Homo sapiens: one gene and its partner. The protein of the gene in region 2 interacts with the protein of the main gene of each other region in a biochemical or structural test. Each region holds a gene or a part of one and is shown on either strand. Other genes may lie near its edges. The genes, in order: IRF2 and ATG7.

What was found.
Region 1: the proteins of ATG7 (region 2) and IRF2 form a complex in vitro, tested with the Homo sapiens proteins (one study listed by BioGRID).

Annotation. Positions count from the first base shown.
Region 1 is NC_000004.12:184,392,506-184,403,020, reverse strand, and holds part of IRF2 (interferon regulatory factor 2), read left to right. Parts: intron 1-3,941; coding exon 3,942-4,106; intron 4,107-10,515. UniProt on the Homo sapiens protein: Specifically binds to the upstream regulatory region of type I IFN and IFN-inducible MHC class I genes (the interferon consensus sequence (ICS)) and represses those genes. Also acts as an activator for several genes including H4 and IL7.
Region 2 is NC_000003.12:11,273,024-11,282,396, reverse strand, and holds part of ATG7 (ubiquitin-like modifier-activating enzyme ATG7), read right to left. Parts: intron 8,184-9,373; exon of another isoform or gene 3,577-8,183; intron 1,404-3,576; 5' UTR 1,295-1,403; intron 228-1,294; exon of another isoform or gene 205-227; 5' UTR 1-204. UniProt on the Homo sapiens protein: E1-like activating enzyme involved in the 2 ubiquitin-like systems required for cytoplasm to vacuole transport (Cvt) and autophagy.

The DNA of each region.
Region 1 (10,515 bases), on a different chromosome or scaffold from region 2:
ACTGACTTTTCTCTCCTGGTCAGCCGCATTCAGGATACACCTAAAATCTGCATGGACGTGCTTATCTACTTTTTTCCCCAAGTCATGTATATTAAGTGAAATACGGTAAAATTCACCCCTTTTAAGGCACACGGTCCTATAAATGTTGACAGACGCACTCAGTGATGTAACTACCACCATAGTCAAGACAGAACATTTTCATCACCCCAACACGTTTCCTCCCTGGCCCCAGCCCTCGCACCCACAGCCGGCTGTCTTTATCACTTCCCAAAGGTTTCAAGAGTCCACTTGTCAGAAGTCTTGACATTTTTCTAGAAAACATTAATTGTCACGTCCCGTATTTGCAGATTGTCACAATCCCCTGCAGGACTCCACTCTGGCTCCAGTCAGTGAGCCTCGGCCCCATCACATGTCCATTTATTCAGGGGAGAGTCCCTGAGCGCCTCTCCGGTGGGAGTTGTGAGCATGTGTCATGACTGGACACAAAAAGTTCATACTTTGGTTGAGGAGAGATGCCATTGACCAACTCAAAGCTCCATACGGGTATATAGCGTTAACCAGCAACTTGAGGTCAGAAGTGTCACAAGGTCGCGGCCCATCGTAGTTTCGGCCGAGTGACGGGGACAGTGAGTGAGAGGCACCCAGGGGAGAGAGGCCAGTCTGTGCTGGCGGGTCAGGAAGGGGCTCCAGAAGTCAGGGGCATGGTGAATGCTGCCTGTTGCTCAACCCCCACTCCTGTGCCACTACCTCATTGAAGCCTTTGATTCCTCAAACTGGAAAAAACACCCCACTTCTCTAGCTTCCATTGTATGGCCCCCTTCTTTTTCTTTTCTTTCTTTTCAGTGCTCACGGCCTTAAACTGACTCTCTAGATGGTTAGTCGCTGGCCTATAGCCATGTATATGAACTTCTTACAAACCGGATCCTTGACTGCATCGATCTTCCGCTGCTCCTTCTAGCCCTGGGAGGCTGGGAGGTGCAAGCAGGTGTTCCATAAATCTCTGTTAGTTGAATAACCGACTAGGACGTCATGGGGAGAAGCAGTGAGAGAAAGAATTCCTGGTTGGAACAAAGGGATCTGACTAGGGGGATACTTGAGCTGCTGCCATTGTTTGTAGTCCCAGCTGGCTTGCCCTCTTTCTGTTAGGAGCAACGTGCAAAGGAGAGATGAGTTTTGAAATATTGGAAGTTAAAATGGCTTTGACTTAAGTCACATTTATCTAAGACCTTCACTGCCTTAGTATGCAAGGTATCGCTGCGCCCTCCCTCCTCAAACTCTCACACCCCATTTGGTTTCTACCTCCACCCACCAGCTGCTTCTTAGGACTTAGGATAGGGCAGGCCATTATCTTGTTTTCCTGCCATTTTATTTTACTTGGCTGGAAGAGGCAGAGGAAACTAGAGAGAGGTTGGTGTAGGTCAGCGTCAGTCTGTGTCTAGTGACCTGCATAATTGATGTCCTCACCCTCACGTAGGATAATCCAAAGGATGAAATAAATGGGCTTGGGAGTCTGCCTGCCATATATAGCCTGCCTGCCTTTTCTTTAATTTTATCCCCACCAGGAAAACCTAAACAGGATCCGGTTTCCCTTCCATTCTGTATGCTGTGGCTTTTGGACTCTTGTATCACAGCCCCAAATCCCCTTTCTGAGCCTCTTTTGTGCCTTTCCTTTCTTTATTAAAGAACCTATGAATTGCCACTGCCCTCTAAAACCTTCCCTGCGTAGAAATCAGATAATGTGCTTGTCACTCCACAGACAGCAATTAAAACAGGAACCTGTTTATAAACAAAAATACTTCAGAAAATAAAATACTTGGAGTGATTAAAACGAGCCTCTCCATGACGCCTGGCGTCTCAAGGAGACTGGAATGCGTTCTAACCTGAATACTTTGCCGATTGGTGAGAAAATGACTGCAACATAGAGCACCACATATACTCCAAGCTGTGCGAGTCTGGACAAGTCACTCTCCCTCTCTGTGCCTGAGTTTCTTCATCTATAACAGGATAACGATGCTTTCTCTGTCATCCTTATGGGTTAAAATGTTAAAATAACAGATACAGGTATGAGTAAAACGTTGATGATGGTGGCAAAGTGCTTTGAGGACCTTGGGAATTATTTCTTCACCTTTATTTATTGAAGCTAATTTTCAGGGACATTTCATCCAACTAACAGTGGTATGAGGTCAGTTTCATTCAAAATGAGGGCAGGACCTTAGGGACCTTCAAATTAAAATGGCCATGAAACATCATGACTTACCTATGAGAATGGCCAAAATAAATAAACAGTGATGACACGAAATGCTGCCGAGGCTGTGGAGAAATTTGATCACTCAGACACTGCTGGTGGGAATGTAAAATGGCACGGTCACTCCGGGAAGCAGTTTGGCAATTTTCTTGTAAAATTAAACATGAAATTACCATATGACTCAGCAATTGCATTCTTGGGCATTTATCCCAGAGAAATGGAAACTTATATTCATACAAAACCTGAACACAAACATCCATAGCAGCATTATTTGTAATAGTCAAAGGCTTGTAGCAACTCAGACATCCTTCAGAGGGGAGAATAAACACACTGGTACACCTATACCGTGGAATACTACTCGGCAATTGAAAAGGAACCGATGACTGATACACACAACAACTTGGGTGACTCTGCGGTGAATTATGCTGAGTAAAAAAAAAGCCAGCCCCAAAAGTCTACTGTATGAGTCCATTAATATAACATCCTTGAAATGAACAAATTAATGAAATGGGGAACAGATTAATAGTTGCCCAGGGGTCATGGACAAAGAGATGGATGGGGAGGTACTGAAGGAAGGTGGCTATGGTTACAAAGAGTAACGTGAGAGAGATTGGTCGTGATGGAACTGTTTGGTGTTTTGACAGTGGTGGTAGGTACATGAACCTTTATGTGTGATAAAATTGCACTTAGTCCTGGTGCAGGTACACACTCACACAAAAGAGTGCAAGTAAAACTGAGGAAATCGGAACAAGATGGGTGGATTGTTATTTATGTCAATACTCTGGTTGCGATATTGTATTCTAGCTTTGTAGCCTATAACCATTGGAAGAAGTTGAGTAAAAGGCACACAGGATCTCTCTGTATTATTTCTTACAACTGTATGTGAGTTTACAATGATCTCAAAATAAACAATATAAGAAAAATATTTGAGGCAGTTTTCAGAGCCAGGGTGGTCAGAATCCATCTTATCAGTGTTCCGGGGAGCTGATGCTACTAATGTTTGCCAGAATTGGAGATCTGACTCTATTCCATTGTGCTGATATTTCAGCCAGTTGGACATGTTGCCTGTAGAGCAGGAAGAGAGCTGGGAGCGTAAGCAGAGCGCCACCCAGCTAGATGGGGACCTTGGGCATTTATCCCAGAGAAATGGAAACTTATGTTCATACAAAACCTGAACACAAACATTCACACAGCTAGATGTGACACAATTGGGTAGATTTTCATGGCCCTTCCTCTTTAGTAAGGTTTGATAATGTCTCCCTGGATTGTAGAACCCAGAAAATAAGCACAGCGCCTTCTTTTGGAGCAAGAGCAGGGAGCAGAAATCGGTCAGGTTCAAAGTACTGTCATGTCTGGCCCTGGGGCTGGGGCTGGATGCCGCCTCTGGTCCTGTGGCCTCGGCTGTGACGGGGTTGACTGTGGAATTCTGCTGAGCTGGAAAGGACATGGCCACCGTGCGTGCCATTGGCAGGCATGCTGGAGATAGACCTGGGGAGCCAAGTGCTGGCCGGCTGCTCCCTGGGAGACATCACACCAGAGCTACAGAGCTCAGGCGTGTTCTTCAGCCCCATGGCAGGGGACAGATGGTGATGGGAGCCTGGCGACCTGGCTCTTTTGGGGAAGACTCTTTCTTGAGAAAGTGTGCTAGAATTGTGAGGTCAGCAGACTTTGCATGATGGCTGTCTTTTCTTTGAAGTTGTAGGACAGTCCCATCTGGACAGCAACATTGAGAATCAAGAGATTGTCACCAATCCGCCAGACATTTGCCAAGTTGTAGAGGTGACCACTGAGAGCGACGAGCAGCCGGTCAGCATGAGCGAGCTCTACCCTCTGCAGATCTCCCCCGTGTCTTCCTATGCAGGTAAGCGTCAGCGGGAGGCTCCGGGAGGCGTGGGAACCGGCCGCGCAGTCCTTTGGTCTAGGGTCACCCATCTCACCACCCCACGGAGCATCCCTCCTCTGTCCTAGGAGTTATTCTCCCTGGAGTTTTTCATACTTTAATTATCTTGATCAACATCTTCTTGGACACTTTTGTTCTCAGGTAGAGGACAGGATCACAGCATTTCTTTACTCAGTTGGCCATGACATTTTTTATTTATTTATTTATTTTTTTTTTTTTTGAGACAGAGTCTCGCTCTGTCTCCCAGGCTGGAGTGCAGTGGGATGATCTCGGCTCACTGTAACCTCCGCCTCCCAGGTTCAAGAGATTCTTCTGCCTCAGCCTCCTGAGTAGCTGGGATTACAGGCGCACACCACCATGCCAGCTAATTTTTGTATTTTTAGTAGAGACGGGGATTCACCATGTTGGCCAGGCTGGTCTCGAGCTCCTGACGTCAGGTGATCCGCCCACCTTGGCCTCCCAAAGTGCTGGAATTACAGGTGTGACCCACAGTGCCTGGCCTCCCATAACATTTTTATATATGGTTACAGATAAGATTTCTTTAGGGCAGTAGTTCATCAGAGTCTAATTTATTAGCCCAAGTTATTAGAAATTTGGCAGAGTGTTTTAATGGATTCTCAGTTTGAGCAGGCTGGATAGGACCTTAGAGATGATCTCTTCCTGTTCCTTCATTTCTGAAAGGGAAGGGGCTTGCGCAGGGTCGTACAGTCAGCAAGTGTTTGGGCCAGGACTTGACCTCAGCCTTCAGACCCCAAGCTCATTGCTAGATCCATTCCATCCACCAAGCGTACTTGTCCTTTCCACATATTTTCTCTTTCTTTTTATATCTAGTACAGGTTCTAATTAGGCCAGATGACTGAGCCATTTCCAATTCTCCAGGGACTTGGCTACATAATGACAGGAGTTGGCCCAGGCAGAGTCACAGGGGGAGGAACAGATCCAGTTGGTTCTTCCATTCTTCCAGAGTAAAAGGATGGCTCCTCTCGTTCGCCAACATTACTTCATCTTCTCCTCTCTTCCTGATGATCTCCATTGAATTTTGTGGAAATCAATTGTAATTAGGAAATATAAATTCTGAGTCAGTGTTACTGCTTGCAGATATTAAAAATAAAAAGCAGAGTCCCCATCCTGGGAAACTGCAGTTCAGCTCTAGCAAATAGTTCAGGGATTCTTCCCTGTGCTCTTTACACGCTGCCAAATGGGATGTCCTCCAGTAGGTGCCACCCCCAACACTGGCTCCGACCAGCGTTGGAATTAGAGTTGACTCAAAGGACTGTTGTTTGTGAATTATCAGCCACTAAGTCTAATCTCATTTTCCCTGAATGCCAACTTTCTTTTTTTTTTCACTTTTAAAAATTGTGGTAAAATACATTAACATAAAATTTACCATTTTAGCCATTTTTAGGTACACAGTTTAGTAGCATTCAGTGCATTAATGTTGTCGCAGCCATCACCAGCATCCACCTCCAGAACGTTTTTCATCTTGCGAAACTGAAACTCTGTCTGCATTAAACACTAAGTCCTCTTTTCCCTCCTCCACCCCAGCCCCTGGCAACCTCCTGCCTATTTTCTATCTCAGTGAATTTGGCTATTCTAGGTACCTCCTATGAGTGGAATCATAGTGCTTGTTGTTTTGTGACTGGCTTATTTCACTTAGCATAGGTCCTAGTGTGCATTTATGCTAGGAGCGTAAGTGGAATGTGAGAATAGACCTTGGCCACAGGAAGATTATAATCTGTCAAACAGGATAAGCTTGTCTTCGGTGCTTTATTCAGCAAATGCGTTTTGGACTCTTACACGTGCCAGTCCCTGTTTGGTCCTTGCCAGAGTGCAGTCACAAGAACTACTATGTTTTGCAAATTTATTGTGCCCTGGGAACCATGCTCAGTGCTTGGGTACAGTTGACTGTTGTTGTTGTTGTTTGTTGTTGTTGTTAATAGAAATAGGGTTCTGCCTTGCTGCCCAGGTTGGTCTAGAACTCCTGGGCTCAAGTGATCTGCTCGCCTCAGCCTCCCAAAGTGCTGGGATTACGGGCATGAGCTGCCATGCCTGGTATGATACAGTTGACTTGTTTAATTATAATTAGAGTAACCCTGTCAGCCTGGGTATCGTCATCATCCCGTTTTTAAAAGTGAGGAATCTGGCTGGGTGTGGTGGCTCACGTCTGTAATCCCTGCACTGGAAGGCTGAAGTGGGAGGATCACTTGAGCCCGGAAATTGGAGACCAGCCTGGGCAACATAGTGAGACCACACTTCTACAAAAAATAAAAAAAGTTAACCGGGTGTGGTGGCATGTGCCCGTAGTCCCAGCCACTTGGAAGGCTGAGGCAGGAGCATCCCCTTGAGCCCAGGAGTTCAAGGCTTCATTGAGCCCTGGTTGCACCATTGCACTCCAGCCTGGGTGACAGAGCGAGATCCTGTCTTAAAAAAAAAAAAAAAGAAAAAAAAATATATATATATGGATCTGCGGCTGGCGTGGGTAGAGCAGCGTGTCTGAGGGAGGAACGATTGGGAGCACAGCTAGAACCCATGAGCCGTTGATGCCAAAGGCCGGTCCTTAACGCCCGCCCTGTGTCGCTGCCCTGGACAGCGCACGGGCTCTGCCGTTCAGAACACAGCCACATCCCGTGATCTCATTTGATTTTCACAAGGACCCACCAAAGGAGGCAGAGCAGAATGTTTATGCCTAAATTTTACAGTAGAGCTAACCGAAGCGTGAAACACTCAGCCACTTTGCTTATATTTACATAGTTATGGCTAAAAACCCATGACTTTCTTCTATAGCCTGCTGCTGCAGGCATCGTTACACTCCATGTGGTTTTCTTTCTCTCTTCTTTTTTTAGGGGGTTGGAGCTTTAGAATAGACTTCTATGTTTATCTGTTGAGTAAGACTTTTCTGAGGTCTTCTTGGGGATTCTGGAAAGACCTCTTCTTGCTGTTCTGCCAGCAGTGGCATTTGCTCAAGCAAAAGATTCCGGAGAACAGCAGATCCATGCAGAGAGAAATGAACATTTCATTACTCTCTTCAGGACATTTGCATAGGTTTGAAAGGAAGGATTTCAGTGCCAGGATGGCAGTCAACAGGAGGTTTTGCTGGAGCCTGGCTTTTCAGCCTGGCCTTTGGTTCTTTCCGTTGTTTTCATTGTCTGGATTCTCCAGAACCTCGTGGAGGGAGGCTTACTGGTTGGAGGCAAAATGTTCCATCGCTGCTGATGTTCTAGAGCTCACAGTGGTGTAAAACATTTCCCTGCTACTGACTGTAGCTAATTTTAGTTCCTCCGTCAGAAATTGTATAACATGCTGTCAGGAAAGGCAGCTTTCTGCGTGTATTCACCTTTCTTGCTTTATGTTCTCCAGTAGAGTCGGCCATTTGCCTGTTTTTCATGATGGAGTTCCTTTGTTTGGGCTGTTCATCTGAATTTCAATCTCCTCTGACCACCTTTTTTTTTTTTTTTTTTTTTTTGAGACGGAGTCTCGCTCTGTCGCCCAGGCTGGAGTGCAGTGGTGCGATCTCGGCTCACTGCAAGCTCCACCTCCCGGGTTCACGCCATTCTCCTGCCTCAGCCTCCCGAGTAGCTGGGACTACAGGCACCCACAACCAAGCCCGGCTAATTTTTTTTGTATTTTTAGTAGAGACGGGGTTTCACCGTGTTAGCCAGGATGGTCTCGATCTCCTGACCTCGTGATCCACCCGCTTCGGCCTCCCAAAGTGCTGGGATTCCAGGCGTGAGCCACCGCGCCCGGCATGCTCTGACCACCTTTATTCATCTGTTTGGGAAACTGGTATTTGGAGGCTGCTGTTTGCTAGTTTTTCCCCCTACTGATCGTTGAATCATAATCCCAGTAGTATATTACAAAACCACATTCAGTTTTGCAAGTCTGTCTTCTCCTCTGTGGTCTAAATATTATGATGAGAAAGAGAAGAGATAGTACTTGCGTTGGATGTTTTAAGACAACATAAAATTCTAGTGTGATTTGTGAAACTTTCATACTAGGGAGGGACATTTCAAAGTGCCACTTTGGGAAGCTCTGGCGGAGAGACATGTCATGTTTAAAGGTGCATTACAAAGTGACCCCTTGCCTGATCTGTGGCATCAGAATTTTATTAGGTGGTTGATGGTTTAGTAGAAGAAAACCACAGTAGAATAATGGGGTGGGGGAGGATGGGTAAGAGGGGCTGGAGAGTAGACTCGAGAAGAAAACATCATCTGAAGGACTCACTGGCTATAATGAGAGAGTGGAGATCGCCTGCTGACCAGCAGCCATCAGTAAAGGCTTTGAATCCTTCGGGAAACCACACCAGGCTTGCATTTTGTTGGGCAGAGCAAAGACACAATCGCTTTGAGATTAAGAGGATTCCGATTTGAAAATAATTTACTCCTGGTGAAAGTAATTGAGAATATGATCAATAGAAAGAAATTCAAATCAAACTTGCTGAACAAGAGCCTTCCAGAAAGTGTAGCAGAATGTCAGAGTGCAAAAAGCCTTTCAGGTGAAAATGCATCCTCTCCCTTCCCGCAGTGTTCCTGCTTAGACAATATGTATATCCTCAGCGAGGCGTTAAAAACTGGACTGGATAGAGAGTGAACCTACAACCAGTGTCACCCTAGAACTGGAAGAGCTTTTGAGATCATCTAATCCAAATCCTCCCCTTCCCTCCCACCCTAGATGCTTTCAGGAAAACTGAGACCAGAAAGGTTAAGTGAATTACTCATGTGCCTGTTGGTACTGTACGAACACCTTCAGCTTCTTCATTTGTTTGGAGTTGCTGGAGAAGCAACTCCAGACTTCTTTATTCCATTGTATTCGAAGTAAGTAATAAACAAAAAGCAAAAACAAATTCAAACTAATCAAAAGGGAAAATGAAATGACAACGTATGTTGATAGTTCGATAGTAACACTGATCTGGAGGCCCAGCTGCAGTCAGCTCCCTTGTGTAAGAAGTCAGCGTGGAAGTGGCAATGGTGGTCAAACCAAGGAAACAGAGGACACGGGGCGCAGTGCATCCAACAAAGCACTTGGAGCCACCGATTCTGGGGTCACAGAGAGAACTGCTCCCCTCAGGGGGAGGTTCAGGGTTCTCTGCTCCTAAGCTAAGGTACTGAAGGCCCCTTTTTGAAACTGTCAGTGTCCTAATAGGGCGCATCTTCCTGACGACTTCAGATGCTGTGGAACTTAATCTAGACACGACGCTCTTTAACTCGCATTTGTGTCAGCTGAAAACATAAGTTCGGAGCATGTGTATCTTTTCTTATCTGCAGCTATTTCCCCGAAGCTGAAAACTGGGTACTTAAAGGAAGTTAGCATCCCGGTCACATTCATGGGCGGTGCAAGGTCTTACCCGGGAGCCTTACCCCAGGATCTGACTTCCAGCCCCTCCTGCACCTGCGACTGGGGCTGTGCTGGAATCCCAGCCCCCAAAGCATGCTTGGTTGCGTATCTTTGTTTGTATTTGGAGGGGAAAGGAAAAGAAGACAGTGATATTTATGGAGAGTCATTAGGAGTGAAGAGCATCTGAACCCGTATGAAAGGAAGAGAAAGCTTGGCTTTGGAGCACAAAGAAAGCTAAGCATAAAATGGAAAGCGGATCTTGAAATGTTGTCAGAGACCAGAACACCAGGGAAGCAGGGCTGCTGTGTGCAGTGCACAGGCCCTGGAATCAGAAGTACAGTTTTGTTTTCTCTCCTCTGTGCTGTCTCAGTTGGCAACTTTGGCAAGTTTCTCAACATCTCTGTTCCTCATTTTTCTTCTTGGGAGTGGCTGTTCCGATTCCTGCCTCCTCAGGATACTGAGCCAGCACGAGGGTTCTCTGAGGAGGGGAATTTTCTTTTTCTGTTGGTTTTCATGTGTTTCTGCGTGGAAACAATTCTTGTGCTCGGCAACGTCAGCTCATCTTCATAGCTGGGATCGTCGTCAGCTGAGGCTGAGGGCTTCTCTGGGTCTCTGTGGCTCCCAGCACGGGGTGTTTTGGGGAAACATGCCCAGTCCGAGGAGTGGAGAGATCTGTCTTCTGCATGCTCATGGCCAGCCCACCGCGATCACTCAGGTTTGTGTGAAGTTACTGGAGAACAGTGGCTGAGAAACAGGCCCAGAGACTCCAGGCTGGGACCAGTGGAGTCCACATTCTTACTTTCCTTGTTTAAGGAATGCACCTGTGGCACAGTTTGTCCATTTGTTCTTTTGCCTTTAATTGATAGAGAGCCTGGTCTGGGGCTAATGCTCTCAGTGGAAGAAAGGGCTCTGTCTGGGCTGGAGCCATCTCATCCCAGCTCTGCCACCAGGAAGATGTGAGACAGAGGCCAGCCCCTCAGCAGGGACCGGGTGGAAAGCTGGAAGGCACTGGAGCATAAGAGCTCTTCTGCGTAACGGG
Region 2 (9,373 bases):
GTCAACCAGGGAACAAGCAGTCACATCCACAGTCTTCAAACTCTTATCTGTCCTTCTCATTGGTTACTTCCAGGAGCTGTTTTTCTTTTATTTTGGTTTCCTTCTGCTATAATATCCTTCACCTTCACATGCAATCTGGTGTCCATCAGCTTCAGTTTTTGAGAACGGATGCACTGGATACCAGCATTATGGGGTTTGAGAAGCCTACATGGGAGGGACAGTGACAGCTGAGAAAATGTGGGAAAGAGGAGAGAGGAAGCAATAATGCCAGGAAGATGGAGGGCAGTGTGCCTCCTTCTGAGTCCTTTTGTTACCTCCACTGATCAACAGTGTTGCCCATTTCTCTGTTCATCTGAGAGACACCCACCTGGATTTGTCTAAATCACTGTGGAGCCCTATGCCAACCAACAACTAAAATCTATGATGGTTTCCTAAAAGCTGGCTGAGTTATGAAGGCTTGCTTCTAAATAATTACATCTCTGTGGTTTTCATTTCTGGTATGTTTAAAGAATCCTGAGAAACGGGAGAAGTACTTTAAAACTGGGCCAAGCAAAGGCCTGATTTCCGATTTTCAAAATGTTTGATTTTTCTTTGTTTCTTTTCTCTTTTTTTTTTTTTTTTTGAGATGGAGTTTCGCTCTTGTTGCCCAGGTTAGAGTGCAATGGCACGATCTCGGCTCACTGCAACCTCTGCCTCCCACGTTCAAGCAATTCTCCTGCCTCAGCCTCCCAAGTAGCTGGGATTATGGGCGCCCGCCACTACGCCCAGGTAATTTTTTGTATTTTTAGTAGAGATAGGGTTTCACTATATTGGCCAGGCTGGTTTCGAACTCCTGACCTCAGGTGATCCACCTGCCTCAGCCTCCCAAAGTACTGGGATTATAGGCGTGAGCCACCACACCCGGCCTGATTTTTCAAAGATAAGAATAAAGATGGGTTCTAAAGACCACTGGACAGAAGTTTTGCTCCCAGGAAAGGCCCATATGGGCCACTCTAGTCCACTTAGCACCTTTGTACAATCAGAAAATTACACCTCTGCTTCAAGATTTTACTTCCTTTAGTTAGAGAAATGTTGTAATATACTGATTAGATTAGCTCAAGACATGGTAGCCTTCTCTGCCACTGTCATTACAAAAATGCACCCATGATACCTATGATATAAATGGAACCCCCTTTGATGTGGCCTCTTGTGCAGTGCACAGCCTGCATAACTGTATGAGGCAGCCCTAAGTAATCACAAGAGGCCAATATGGTTTCTCTAAGAAAAAGTCATGACAGAGTAACTGCATTCCTACCTTGATCAGGGAAGAATCATAGACGCAGGACATACAGGTCTCAGAAATGTCTCTCACAAGGCTGCTCTAGAAATCCCGGTAGACAAGGTGAAGATACAGGAATTGGATCCTGACATAATTAGAGGGATTAAGAACTGGTAAAATAATCTTATTCAAAGGATCTTGGTTACTGAATTAATTAATGTTAATTAGAAAGGAGCTAATAGCAGTACGTCTTTGGCTTAGTCTCTGGGCCTGTCCAATTTATTTTATTTATCCACATGAATGAATATTTATCAACATTTACTAAGTATTTCATGTGCACTGAACCCTGTGCTGGGGCTAAGAGCAGGGGGAATAGGCAAATAAACATATTCAATAAAGTATTCTTATTACCATATTTTACCAATAACTTGGATAATGATATAGATTTGCTTATCAATTTCATGACAAAAGAAGAAACAGGCAATACAAGTGACTAAAATTCAGGATAAAAAAAGATTCCAACCATCTGGAATGGCAGGCCTATTTTAACAAGATTTGAAATTTCATAGAGGTAAATCTAGGGCCCTAAATCTAAGTTCAAGAAAACAACTGGACAAGGCAGATGGTCTGCTAGACTGGAAAGGGCATAGGTTCATGAGCCAGAGAGACCTGAGTTCAAATCCTGTCTCTGCTACTTTCTAGCCACACCACCTTGGACAAGTCATTCAACTTCTCCGAGTCTGTTTCCTCTTCTGTTAGATGGGGATACCACCTACTGTGCAGAATTAGTGTGAAGATTCAACTAGAAAATGCATACATCTGGCCCATAGGAGACACTCAAAAAGCAGGACTAATATCATATTGTTTACCAATAACATGCCCGGCCAACATGGCGAAATCCCGTCTCTACTAAAAATACAAAAAAAGGGCCGGGCATGGTGGCAGGCGCCTGTAATCCCAGCTACTCGGAAGGCTGAAGCTTGAGAATTGCTTGAACCCGGGAGGCGCAGGTTGCAGTCAGCTGAGATAGCACTACTGCACTCCAGCCTGGGTGACACAGCAAGACTCTGTCTCAAAAAAAAAAAAGAAAAGAAAAGAAATGAAATTGGGGCTTCCATTAGTTATTTCTTCAATAAACAGTTATGTTACATACTTGTCCCTGTGCTACATTTCAGGGTTCAATGGCAAAAAAAAAAAAAACTATGGTCCCCACCTTTAAAGAGCTAACAATTTTGAAGCCAAAACAGACAACAAAACAGAAGAGGAATCGGAGTATAGCAATTTGGAGGTAAAACAAATACAGTATAGCCTGGCGTTTGTACAGAATGTTATAGGAGGAGGGATATCTAAATTAGACTGATGAGGCAACAGTGTTTCCTATAGAAACCCTTAAGCCAAGGTGGGGTTTTTTTGTTTGTTTGCTTTTTATTTTTTGTTTTTTGAGACGGAGTCTTGAGACAGAGTCTTGCTCTGTCACCCAGGCTGGAGGGAGGTGGCTCAATTTCGGCTTCACTGCAACCTCTGCCTCCCGGGTTCAAGCGATTCTCCTGCCTTAGCCTCCTGAGTAGCTGGGATTACAGGCACCCGCCACCATGCCTGGCTAATTTTTGTATTTTTAGTAGAGACAAGGTTTCACTATGTTGGTCAGGTTGGTCTCGAACTCCTGACCTTGTGATCCACCCGCCTCGGCCTCCCAAAGTGCTGGGATTACAGGCGTGAGCCACCACACCCAGCCAAGCCAAGGTTTTAAGAATATCCTATAGAAACCCTTAACCCAAGGTTTTAAGAACATCCAAGTAGATTCTCAACAGGGGCCCTACTGGCATGCTGGATGGAACAATTCTTTTTTGTTTAGAGCTATCCCTGCACACTGCAGAATGTTGAGCATCTCTGGCTCTCTCTCAATAAATGCAGTAATGCCCTCTGGTCAATGTCACAAAACAAAGCAAAATAAAACAGCTCCACAAACTTCTAAACCCACCCCTGATGGTTGAGAAAGGGAGGGTTAGATGACAGCACTAGCCCCATGCAAGGACCCCTGGATGAGGAGGCTAGAGGTAGGGAGTGGGGACTCTCCAGGCAAAGGGAGGAAGCTGACTCAGCTCCACATCATCAGCTGCAGAAACACCCCATGGCCTCTGCATAAGCTTAGAATTTTCTTGGCCACCTCCACATACCCATCATCTAGTGAATTTCTTTGCTCACTTCAAATCACAGCTCAATCATCACTTCTGAGGGAAGCCTTCCCTGACTCCCTCAGCTCTGGATTAGGTCGATCCTCCTGTATTCTAGTCCTCAAAGAGCACCAACTACCTTACCTTCATAGCACGTATGCAGTTATCCTCCTCAGTAGAATAAAAATTCTATGAGAAAGGAACCATGTCAGCTTCTCATTTTCCCCCATTCATCATTGTTTTTCTAGCACCTGACTTAGCACCTCATAGGTGCCCAATAAATACTTGTTGATGACTGAAACAAAGAATGAATAAATAAAAATTCTATGAGAAAGGAACCGTGCCAGCTTCTCATTTTCCCCTATTCGTCATTGTTTTTCTAACACCAGTCTTCGCACCTCACAGGTGCCCAATAAATACTTGTTGATGACTGAAACAATGAAAGAACAAACCAGGATGGTATGTTTGAGAAAATACAAATGAGTTCTGTTGCGGGAAGTCACGGACCCTGAACGGAGGGACCGGCTGGAGCTGCAGCAGAGAAACATAAATTGCGAAGATTTCATTTTAATATGGACATATATCAGTTCCCAAATAATACTTTTATAATTTCTTATGCCTGTCTTTACTTCAATCTCTGAACATAAATTGTGAAGATTTCATTTTAATATGGACATTTATCAGTTCCAAAAATTAATACTTTTATAATTTCTTATGCCTGTCTTTAATCTCTTAATCCTGTTATCTTTGTAAGCTGAGAATGTAAGTCACCTCAGGACCACTATTGTGTTAACTGTACAAATTGATTGTAAAACATGTGTGTTTAAACAATATGAAATCAGTGCACCTTGAAAAAGAACAGAATAACAGTGATTTTCAGGGAACAAGGGAAGACAACCATAAGGTCTGACTGCCTACAGGGTCAGGCAGAATACAGCCATATTTTTGTTCTTGCAGAGAGCCTATAAACAGACGTGCAAGTAGGGAAGATATCACTAAATTCTTTTCCTAGCAAGAAATATTAATAATTAAGACCCTGGGAAAGGAATGCATTCCTGGTGGGGGGGGGGGGGTCTATAAAGGGCCGCTCTGGGAGTGTCTGTCTTACGCAGTTGAGATAAGGACTGAAATATGCCCTGTTCTCCTGCAGTACCCTCAAGCTTACTAGGATTGGGAAACCCCACCCTGGTAAATTTGAGGTCAGACCAGTTCTCTGCTCTCGAACCCTGTTTTCTGTTGTTTAAGATGTTTATCAAGACAATACATACACTGCTGAACATAGACCCTTATCAGGAGTTTCTGATTTTGTCCTTGTCCTGTTTCCTCAGAAGCATGTGATCTTTGTGACCCACTCCCTGTTCGCACACCCCCTCCCCTTTTGAAGTCCTTAATAAAAACCTGCTGGTTTTGCAGCTCGGGTCGGCATCACAGTCCTACCAATATGTGATGTCACCCCCAGAGGCCCAGCTGTAAAATTCCTCTCTTTGTACTCTTTCTCTTTATTTCTCAGCCAGCTGACACTTATGGAAAATAGAAAGAACATACCTTGAAATATTGGGGGCAGGTTCCCCTGATAGAGTTCTGTATGGCAGCAAGGAGAGGCACATGGGGCAGAGTAGATGGACCATGCCATAAAAGCAGGCAAAGGCCATATCATGAAGAGCCTTATGTGAAAAGCTATGCAACTGTATTTCTGCATAGATCTCTATTTTAGTAAAGGCAATCCACAGCAGTGAGGACCAGACTGCTGAGGCAGGGCAACCAGCTGGGAGGCTGTGCAGAAAGACAGGCAAAAAGGGAGGGGAGCCTGAAATGAGGGAGCAAGGGAGGAAATGGAGGAGATGTGAGTCAGGAGATAGCAACAAAGTCGAATCTATAGAACTCTGATGACTACCTGGACTTGGAAGATGGAAAGGAGGGCTAGTACCAGAGGAAGAGTCTGAGATGACTCTCAGGGTTCTGTTTTGGATGACTAAATGAAAGGAGAGGAATTGGCAAGATTCAAGAATGGAGAAAGAACGGCAGGTTCAAAGGGAAGATGAGGAGCTTAGTTTTAGACTTGTTTGAGTTTGAGGGTAGCACTCAGGAGAGATTCGGGCTATGATACAGAACAGGGGTCATGAGCATATAAACAAGTTTGAAGCTGCGGTTGAAAAGAATATAGTAGAGGGCAGAGTCTTGGCAAAAATTGGCATGTGAGGGACAAAGGGGAAGAAAGGAGCCCACAATGGAAATTGAGGGACAAATGGCCAGAGAGATAATACAAAGTAGGACTGGGTTTTCCTAAGTGAGGGGCAAGGTCAGCAATGTCAGATGTGCCAAGAAAGATAAGAAGGAAAAGTGGTCAGGTATTCTGGCAATGTCGAGGTCTGATGACTTTGGGGAGTGGTGGGACGAGAGCAGGATTTTAGCAATGACTTAGGGAAGTACAGGAAGCAACTCTAGATAACTCTTCCAAGAAAGGTGGCTGGGTAAAAGAGGTGTGACAGGGTGCAGCATAGGTTAATTGGAGGGTTTTTGTTTTTTCCAAAATGAGAGTAAACAGAGAATATTTAAATGAGAAGGGTTGATGAAACAGAAAAGAAAATGAACAAATGATGGAACCCAGTCCTTGAGGCAAAGGAGGCGATGGGATCTCAAGCACAAATAGAGGACTTAGTCTTAAAACACCATTTCTTTCACAGAATTAGAATAAAAGGCAAAAGGATAGGGTCAGCTAAAGATCAGTTGGTAAAGGATAGAAGAGGAAGCTGCGATGCCTTAATTAATGGCTGCAACTTAGTGGAGCAAAAGTCAAGGTAGGAGGTTGAGGAGAGGAATGAATATGAGGAAGACATAAAGGGAAATGGACAAGAGAGCTGCCTGAGGATATGGGGAGGGCTGAGCCACGCTGAGGGCCTATTTGGTGGCACACTAGTGTAATAGTGTCAAAAGCACAATGTGTCTATAATGGAGCTGGCAGGGCTTTAGGTTACCACAAGAAAAGTGCAGTCTTGCTCTGCATGGTTAGAGTCCTCAAGGAAAGAGGATTTCCTTTCTGTACCACACACTCAAAGAGAGGCTGACAAACCAGAGCAAGTTCAAGGATGGTAACTGGGATGAAGGTGTGAGGAAATCCCAAAAGTGATCATTCTGAAGCCGGTCTGAGATGGAGTGAATAGGCTATTCCTCAGTCTGCCAAGATCATGGTAATACCTACTGACTACCAATTAACAGAGCAGCACCTCCAGTATTTATTGTCCCTTGATTATACAATCAGGCCTTAATCGCACTGGAGAAGGGTGGGGAGATCAGGAGATAGAAAGGGGAGAGGAAGCGGTGGCTCACGCCTGTAATCTCAGCACTTTGAGAGGCTGAGGCAGGCGGATCACGAGGTCAGGAGATGGAGACCATCCTGGCTAGCACAGTGAAACCCCATCTCTACTAAAAAAAAAAAAAAAAAAAAAAAATTAGCCGGGCATGGTGGTGGGCACCTGTAGTCCCAGTTCCTGGGGAGGCTGAGGCAGGAGTATGGAGTGAACCCAGGAGGCAGAGCTTGCAGTGAGCCGAGATCGTGCCACTGCACTCCAGCCTGGGCGACAGAGTGAGACTCCATCTCAAAAAAAAAGAAAAAAAAAAAAAGAGGAGAGGAAGACATTAGCGAACGTCATTTCCATGGGTAGAAGTGGACGACAGAGGCAAACTGAATTCCAAATAAAATCAGAGGTCAGGGTTAATCTATTAGAGACACTAGTCAAAGAATTTTGTTACTGCTCAATTCCACACAGCAAATTCATTTCTGCCCTCCCGTCATCAGGATCCTGATTCTTGTCCCCTTCTTCTGTTTCATCCTATCAGTTACCAAGTCCAGCAAATTCCACCTCCTTAATCTCTCAACTCCTCCCACTCCTCTCCATCTCCACTGTCACTGCCTTCATCCAGATCTTCATCCTGTCACCTGGATCACTGCAACTATACCCAACTGGTCCCCTGCTTGTCTTTTTCTGTCCAGTGTAATCACCACATTGCTGCCTGGGTAATTTAAAACAGATGAGAGGATGTCGCATCTGTTTTAAAATCTTCAGTGTCCTGCTCTCCACCCCCGCCCCCACATTTTAGAGTCCAAACTTCTGGGCCTGGCAATATTAATGACTACTGTTTATTGAGTATTTATCATCTACCAGTGTCAAGTGAGTAACATATCACCTCGTACAGTTTTTATTTCCCCTTCTTAGAGATGAGGAAACTGAAGCTTAGAAAGAAGTGACTTGCCCAGGGTCACAAAACTAGTTCAGTGGCAATGGGAATATTGGTACGCAGCTATCTTGGATCCCAAAGTCTATGTGCGGGTAACATGCTATTGTCCACAGGGCCCTTCACGATGTGGCTAGTGCTTACCTTTCCAGTCACCTCTCATCCTACACCTCCACACTGGCACTCCAGTGAACCACAAGCAGGCCATGCATTCTCACCTCTAGCCCTTTGCTCATCTCACTTCGAACCACTCTTCACCTGTCAGATCTCGTTCGTCCTTCAGGTCTTGGCTAAAGCAGCACCTCCTCACTGAAACCTTCTCTGATGAGTCAGCCTGACTTATGCGTACCCTAAGTCCTCCTCTACCAAACCTCCGCAATAGCTTCATGCCATACCGTTGCTATCTCCTTGGCTTAAAAAAAAAGTAAACTCTTTGAGGACAGGGATGTGTATCTTACTCATTTTTGTATTCCCAGCTTGCAGCGCAGTGCCAGACACACAGCTGAAGCTCAATAAATGTTTATTCTCTATAATGAGATGCTGGCTGGGAACGAAAAACGGAACCTGTGGTTGAGTAATGGAAAGTCCAGTACTCAGCTCTTAAAGGATTTCAAAATCATGTCACATGAGGGCAGGAAGGAGTTGGCCAAGATAAATGGAAGAGGAAGGGGAGATGTTCGAAGCAGCAGAAGCAAAGGGCTATAGGTGACACACACCTGCAAGCAGCTTAACAAGACTGGAGCAGCGTTGGGGGATGGGAAAGCAGTTTAGCAACATGAGCCATTCCAAGACTGGACTTTTCTTTATTCAAGTGTTAGGTCACTTCCTCAGGGAAGCCATCCCTGACTAGCTAGCTTTTATGCTTCCCCCCAATTACTGTCCATCCCATGACCCTGTACGTTTCAGAATCGGAAACACCTACCAACCCTTACTGACAATGCCGCCACCGCCACCACCACCACTATTATTAGAAGGTGCCATGAAACAGGGTTCTTTTTCTTCTTATTTTACTGATAGATCACCAGTGCCCACAATAATGCCAGGCACATAACAGGCAAATATTTGTTTTATTCATTCATCCAACAAATATTTATTGAGCATATATAATATGCTAGGCATTGCTCTATATGCTGGGGATATAACAAAACATGACAAAATTTGCTGTCACTGTTAAGTTTACTATGAGCAAATACATTAAATATGCTTAGCCTAGAGAAGAAAAGGTGAGAAGAGGAAGACAAACTAGCAGCTTTCAATGATGTATAGGGCAATTAAATGCAGGGGTGATTCCAAGAGCCTGAAGGAGGAACAGTGAGCTAAGATTACCGAGTAGCTGCTTTCAGCTCAACCTAAGAGTCAGAACTGGGGGAGGACCAAACAGGAGCAACCAGAAGTAGAAAGCTTTCTGTCACTGAAGAAATCTGGCCAGTGGGCAGAGGTGTCAGAGAAAAAAATCTAAGTAGTCAATGAAAAAGGGAGTCTGGGATCCAGAGGTCCCAAACTGACAGCCACAGATATGACTGGTTACAGTTGAACAGGGTTTTGTAAAAACTGAGTTGCCAATGTTTTTAAACGCCAGAATTACTTGCCAATTTTTAAAAAATGGCATCAGTCGCCAGTGTTTAAAAATCAGGAAACTGCACGCACGTGCACACACACACGGTTTGGCTTGTACTTCTCCAACATCATGTACGTTAGTACTGTACTT